Homo sapiens: one gene and its partner. The protein of the gene in region 2 interacts with the protein of the main gene of each other region in a biochemical or structural test. Each region holds a gene or a part of one and is shown on either strand. Other genes may lie near its edges.

Evidence for each region. Proteins that work in one complex are often made in the same cells at the same time.
Region 1: the proteins of RAD51D (region 2) and ZSWIM7 form a complex in vitro, tested with the Homo sapiens proteins (one study listed by BioGRID).

What each region holds. Positions count from the first base shown.
Region 1 is NC_000017.11:15,986,205-15,989,704, reverse strand, and holds part of ZSWIM7 (zinc finger SWIM domain-containing protein 7), read left to right. Parts: intron 1-2,336; coding exon 2,337-2,439; intron 2,440-3,500. UniProt on the Homo sapiens protein: Involved in early stages of the homologous recombination repair (HRR) pathway of double-stranded DNA breaks arising during DNA replication or induced by DNA-damaging agents. Required for meiotic progression, hence for fertility.
Region 2 is NC_000017.11:35,095,861-35,099,360, forward strand, and holds part of RAD51D (DNA repair protein RAD51 homolog 4), read right to left. Parts: 3' UTR 1-3,500. UniProt on the Homo sapiens protein: Involved in the homologous recombination repair (HRR) pathway of double-stranded DNA breaks arising during DNA replication or induced by DNA-damaging agents. Bind to single-stranded DNA (ssDNA) and has DNA-dependent ATPase activity.

The DNA.
Region 1 (3,500 bases), about 19 Mb from region 2:
GAGCCATGATTGCACCACTGGAATCCAGCCTGCCTGGGTGACAGAGAGAGACTTTGTCTCAAAAAACAAAAAACAAACAAACAAAAAGGCCAGACACGCTGGCTCACACCTGTAACCCCAGCACTTTGAGAGGCCAAGGCGGGGGGATCACCTCAGGTCAGGAGTTCAAGACCACCCTGACCAACATGGCAAAAGCCCATCTCTACTAAAAAATACAAAAATTACCTGGGCATGGTGGCCTGCACCTATAATCCCAGCTACTCAGGAGGCTGGGCCGGAGAATCTCTTGAACCCCGGAGGCAGAAGTTGCAGTGAGCCGAGATTGTGCCACTGCTCTCCAGCCTGGACACCAGAGTGAGACTCCATCTCAAAAAAAAAAAAAATTAAACTTTTAATTTTGACATAATTGTAGGTTTCCTTTAAAAAAGTTAACATGCTTGAGAGTTCCTAAAATATAATTTTGTCTTCAACCTTTCTCACCTAATATTATAAGAATTTTCTCACATATCAAAGTTTTTTCCTGTATATCATTTAACAGTTGGATAGCCTTATTACTAATCCAAAAAGTACACATTTATTATCTTCAGATGGGCAACATAAAAAAGCCTGATAATACTGGTGTTAGTGGGGACATGGAGAAAGTAGAAGTTGGTTTTTCTGTTTGTTTGTTTCATTTATTTTTTTTTTGAGACGGAGTCTCCCTGTTACCTGGGCCAGAGTGTAGTGGCGCGATCTTGGCTCACCGCAACCTCCACCTCCCGGATTCAAGCGATTCTCCTGCCTCAGCCTCCTGAGTAGCTGGGACTACAGGCGTGTGCCACCACGCCCGGCTAATTTTTTGTATTTTTAGTAGAGACGGGGTTTCACCATGTTAGCCAGGATGGTCTCGATCTCCTGACCTCTGGTGATCTGCCTGCCTCGGCCTCCCAAAGTGCTAGGATTACAGGTATGAGCCACCGCGCCCGGCCTGAGAAAATAGAAGTCTTATACAGTGCTGGTGGGAGTGCTGTTTTCACTTTTTTGTGTGTTTTAGTTTTTTTTTTTCTTTTTTCTTTAGAGATGGGGTGTCACTACATTGCTCAGGCTGGTCTTGAACTCCTGGACTCAAGTGATCCTCTTGCCTCAGCCTTCCAAAATGCTGGGATTACAGGCATGAGCCACCACTCCTGTTTCCACTTTGGAGAGCTATTGGCAATATCTATTAAAGTTGAAAATGAACATATGCTTTAGTTACATAAACTAAAGGGGGATTTTCAGAGATGTATGCCAAGGGACATGTATGGGGATAATTGAATATTATTTATAATAGTATAAAATGGAAACAATGTCCATACATAGAGTACTTAAATAAAATTCAGTGTATACATATAATGGAATATTATTCAAAGGTAAAGTAAAAATAAATGTCCGTCAACATGCCTCATTTTCAAAAATGCATTGAGTAAAAAAATGCAAGTTGCCAAAAGAAGTCTACGATATTTTATATTTTCTTTTATTTTTCATGAGCTATTTCAGGAACAGCAAAAAGAAGCCTACAATATACCTTTTATGTTTTAAAACAATACTATATATGTATATGCATACATCTATGCACGTGTGTTTGTTATGTATGTGTGCATACATATGTTCTATATATAATATTTAATATGAACACATTAACAGGAAGGAAACCAACAAATGCATGTGCTTGCCTCAGGGATAAGGGGAAGGTAGGAAGAAGGATGCACTACAGAGAAGTATAAAGAGGGCTTCTTTATCACTAACAGTTTACTCCCTTTATTAAAAATATAATACAGGCCAGGCGCAGTGGCTCACACCTGTAATCCCAGCACTTTGGGAGGCCGAGGCAGGTGGATCACCTGAGGTCTGGAGTTTGAGAGCAGCCTGACCAACATGGAGAAACCCTGTTTCTACTAAAAATACAAAATTAGCCGGGTGTGGTGGCACATGCCTGCAATCCCAGCTACTTGGGAGGCTGAGGCAGGAGAATCGCTTGAACTCGGGAGGCAGAGGTTACGGTGAGCCAAGATTGCGCCATTGCACTCCAGCCTGGGCAGCAAAAGAAAAACTCCATCTCAAAAAATAATAATAATAATAAATAAATATATATACACACACACATATATACATAATACAAGAAGATCTGAAATAAGTACACAAGATATTAACATTAATTCTGGGGAGTGAATGGGTCCATGGGTTTTGCTGTATTATTTTCCTTTTTTCAAAATTAAAATGAATTTTTAAAAAATACTAAGTCTAGTGATCCTTTGGGCAAGTTACTGAGGTGACTTTGAGAATCAGGCCTTCTAATCTGAAGTGTTTTTATTTCACAGGCTGAAGTTTCTCTTTGGCTCATCAGCCACCCAGGCCTTGGACCTAGTTGATCGACAGTCCATCACCTTAATCTCATCACCCAGTGGAAGGCGTGTTTACCAGGTAGAAGTCTAGAGATGGGGGTGATCCCTACAGAAACCCCTTAGGACAAAATGTTCTTCATCTCTGTAGAAGCTGTTGACTAGCTTTAAATATTTCCTGGACTGTTAAAAGGCTTTTGCCCCAACTTGGTAAAATTAACGAATTGATAATTTTTTAAAATTTTTATTTACTTTTAACTGACAGAAACTGTCTATATTCATGGTATATAACATGATGTTTTGATATATGGATACCTTGTAGAATAACTAAATCAAGCTAATTAACATATCTAATACCTTATATACTTCTTTTTTTGTGGTGAGATCACTTAAAATCCATTATCTTAGCAATCTTCAAATATACAGTACTTCAGTCTTTTTCTTGGTTTTTATAGAGACAGGGTCTCACTATGTTGCCCAGGCTGGTCTCAAACTCCTAGGTTCAAGCGATCCTCCCACCTTGGCCTCTCACAATATTGGGATTACAGGTATGAGCACCATCCCCGCCAATACTTTGTTATTAAATATATTCACCATGTTGTACCATAGATACCCTGAACTTATTTCTCCTAACTGAAATTTTGTACCCTTTGACCAATATCTCCTTATCTTCCTCTTCCTCCCCCACCCCAAGGCCCCTGGTAACCACTATTTCTTTTTCTATGAGTTCAACTTTTTTTTTTGTTTTAAATAAAGACAGGGTCTTGCTATGTTGCCCAAGCTGGTCTTGAACTCCTGGCCTCAAGCAGTCCTCCCCCTTCAGCCTCCCAAAGTGCTAGGATTACAGGCATGAGCCATTGCACCCAGCCTATGAGTTCAACTTTTTTTAGATTCCACATATAAGTGAGATCATGTGGTATTTGTCATTCTGTACCTGGCTTATTTCACTTAGCATAGTTTCACTTAACAAAATCCTCCAGAAATTTTTGTAACTAAAATAAGATGGCCAGGCGTGGTGGCTCACGCCTGTAATCCCAGCACTTTGGGAGGCCGAGGCAGGTGGATCACCTGAGGTCAGGAGTTCAAGACCAGCCTGGCCAACGTGGTGAAACCCCGTGTCTACTAAAAATACAAAAATTAGCT
Region 2 (3,500 bases):
TGCAAACTAACTGAAAACCTAATTTAGGAGTATACTTTTGTAACAGATTGCTGAGGCTCAGCCAATCACATCATCAGCTTCAGTGGGTTCCAGGCAGCCAACTATTCAAACCATTTTCAAATAAGGCAAAGGCAGAGCTGTAACCAATTAGTTGTCTTTGTATCTCATTTCTGTTTTCTGACCATAAATGCTTTCAGACTATGTTGCAGCTCTGGAATTCTCTGAACCTGTCCTGGTTCTGAGGGCAGCCCAATTCTAGAATTGCAAATAAAAGTCAATTACAATCTGCAAAACTATATTTGCTTTAATTTTGTCTTTTAACACCTTGTTTTCTTAATTTTTATTATTTTATTTTATAGAGATAGGGTCTTGCTATGTTGCCCAGGCTGGTCTGGAACTCCTGGCCTCAGGCGATCCTCCTACTTTGGCTTCCCAAATTACTGGGATTACAGTCAGGAGCCACAGTTCCTGGCATGTTAACACCTTGTTCTTTAAAGGACACACAGGAGGCGATCCTTCTCCTGCCTGTAGATATTGTCACGTCTGGATTGATGCTCAAAATGGCTGCAGCCAGGCTTTCATAAGGGGAACAAGCTTGAAGACAAAACCAACATAAAAGAACAGAGCAGAAGGATGCAAAGGCTCTACGCCATTTGACAATGAGCCACTAAATTAACAAACCTCAGACTTCCTGTTATCAGAGATAATAAGTGTCCCTGCCAGGCATGGTGGCTCATGACTGTAATCCCTAGCACTTTGGGAGGTCAAGGCGGGTAGATCACCTGAGCCCAGGAGTTCAAGACCAGCCTGGGCAACGTACAGAGACCCCGTCTCTACAAAAAATACAAAACTTAGATGGGTGTGGTGGCACACACCTGTAGTCCCAGCTACTTGGGAGACTGAAGTGGGAGGATCACTTGAGCTTGGGAGGTAGAGGGTACAGTGAGCCGTGATTGTGCCACTGCACTCCAGAGCAAGACTCTGTCTTGAAACATAAAAGAAATAAATATAAATAAGTGTCCCTAGTATTTACACTTCTTTAAGCCTAGGTTTTGTTACTTGCAGCCTTAATGATACATGGACCTTTGCCTGAGTCCTTGGGAATTCAAATGCCTGATTTTTAATTAAGGCCATCAAGTGCTAGCACATAGTAGGATCTCAACATTAATTTCATCTGATGTCAGACGAAGGGCATACAATAGTCCCCTGTAAAAAGATATGTAAGAAGACACTCTGGGGACTCAATGATGTGGGTGTGAACATATATATATATTTTTTAGATGGAGTCTCACTCTGTTGCCCAGGCTAGAGTACAGTGGCACAATCTCGGCTCACTGCAACCTCCATCTCCCAGGTTCAAGCGATTCTCATGCCTCAGCCTCCCAAGTAGCTGGGATTACAGATGCGAGCCATCACACCCAGCTAATTTTTGTATTTTTAGTAGAGACAGGGTTTCACTATATAGGCCAGGCTGGTCTTGAACTCCTGACCTTGTGATCCGCCCACTTTGGCCTCCCAAAGTGCTGGGATTACAGGCGTGAGCCACTGCGCCTGGCTCATATGTGTATATATATGTGTGTATATATATGTGTGTATATATATATATGTGTGTATATATATGTATATATATGTGTGTATATGTGTGTGTGTGTGTGTGTATATATATATATATATGTATATGTATATGTATATTTTTTTCCTAAGAACTAGAGAGTGCCCTCAGGTCTCAAACCACCCCCGCAGGGGAAATTGAAAGTTGACGCTTTATGGAAGGAACCCCTGAGATAGAGCCAGTCCTTTGCTTTTTTAAAATATATTTTTAAAACATCATTCATCTATTTAATCATTACTGAGCTTCCATAATGTATAAAGAGAAAAAGTGACAAAAAGTGGGAGCCTGTAGGCAGACACGTGAACAGAAAGTACAAGTGAATAACTAATACAGGGAAGTTACTGTAAGCATCTATCTAGATCACAGCTGAGGCATAAAAAAGGATGTCAGGGTGGGTGTGCACCAGACACAGTGGGAGCTGGGCAGAGACAGACACATAAGCAAAGGGAGCAAAAGGCACTTGGACAGGAGAGCCAGCCTAGCCCAAGTCCTACCAGGGGACTGCACAGTGTGGTGTGGCCGGAACAGAGTGCAGTGGCAGCAGGCAGGCAAGACAAAGTCCTGGTCTAGGAGGAGCCAAAGGATGAAGCTGGCTGTGAGGGGCACAGCCTGCAGGAATGTCACGTGGTGGTCTCAAGTAGCAGTGAATGCAACACCTTCCCATGGCCACAGAAACTCCTTGGGTGACAGCTGTGGTGCCTTCAGCTGGAGTTACAGCCCTAGCAGGAATAGAACTGTATGGACTGAAAATTAAATAAAATGTGGGGATTTTTTTTTTCTTTTTGAAACAGAGTCTCTGTTGCCCAGGCTGGAGTGCAGTGGCATGATCGCAGGTCATTGCAACCTCTGCCTCCTGGGCTCAAGTGATCCTCCCCACTCAGCCTCTCGAGGAGCTGGGATTACAGACATGCGCCACGACGCCTGGCTAATTTTTGCATTTTTTTTTTTTTTTTGAGACGGAGTCTCACTCTGTCGCTCAGGCTGGAGTGCAGTGGCGCCATCTCAGCTCCCTGCAACCTCCGCCTCCCAGGTTCAAGCGATTCTGCCTCAGCCTCCTGAGTAGCTGGGATTACAGGAAATGGGCCACCATGCCTGGCTAATTTTTGTATTTTTAGTACAGACGGGGTTTCACCATGTTGGTCAGGCTGGTCTGGAACTCCTGACCTTAGGTGATCCACCCACCTCAGCCTCCCAAAGTGCTGGGATTACAGGCGTGAGCCACCACACCCAGCCAATGTGGGAATTAAAAAAAAAAGAGTCCTAGGAATCAAGTTGTGGGTTCCAGATCCCACCTCCATTCTGCCACTAGGACTGTCAGTCATCCTTTTTGAGCCTCAGGTACCTTCTCTGTTAAGTAACAGGATGGGCCAGATGATTTTTTTTTTCCTTGAGACAGGGTCTTGCTCTGTTACCCAGGCTGGGGTGTAGTGGTGCGATCAGGGCTCACTGCAGCCACAACCTCCAAGGTTCAAGCGATTCTCCTGCCTCAGGCTCCCAAGTAGCAGGGACCACAGGTGCACATCACAATGCCTAGCTAATTTAAAAAATTTTTTTGTAGAAACGATGTCTCATCATGTTGCCCAGGCTGATTTTAAACTGTTAAACTCCTGGGCTCAAGTGATCCTCCCGCCTCAGGCTCCCAAAGTGCTACCATTATAGGTGTGAGCCACTGTGCCTGGCCCCAGATGATCTCAAACTGCAGTCCTAGGGTCCTCAGTTAGGTATTAAGTACCTGAACTCACTACATAATGGGAACAGGGCAGAGACGGCAACCAGACTCCACCTTGAATACCAACTCCAACTGACTGGTAGTGGCCCCCTGGAGTGCTATATTGAGAAAAACTTCTAAAAACACTTTGACTTCCACAAAAAAGAGTGCTTGTGCCCG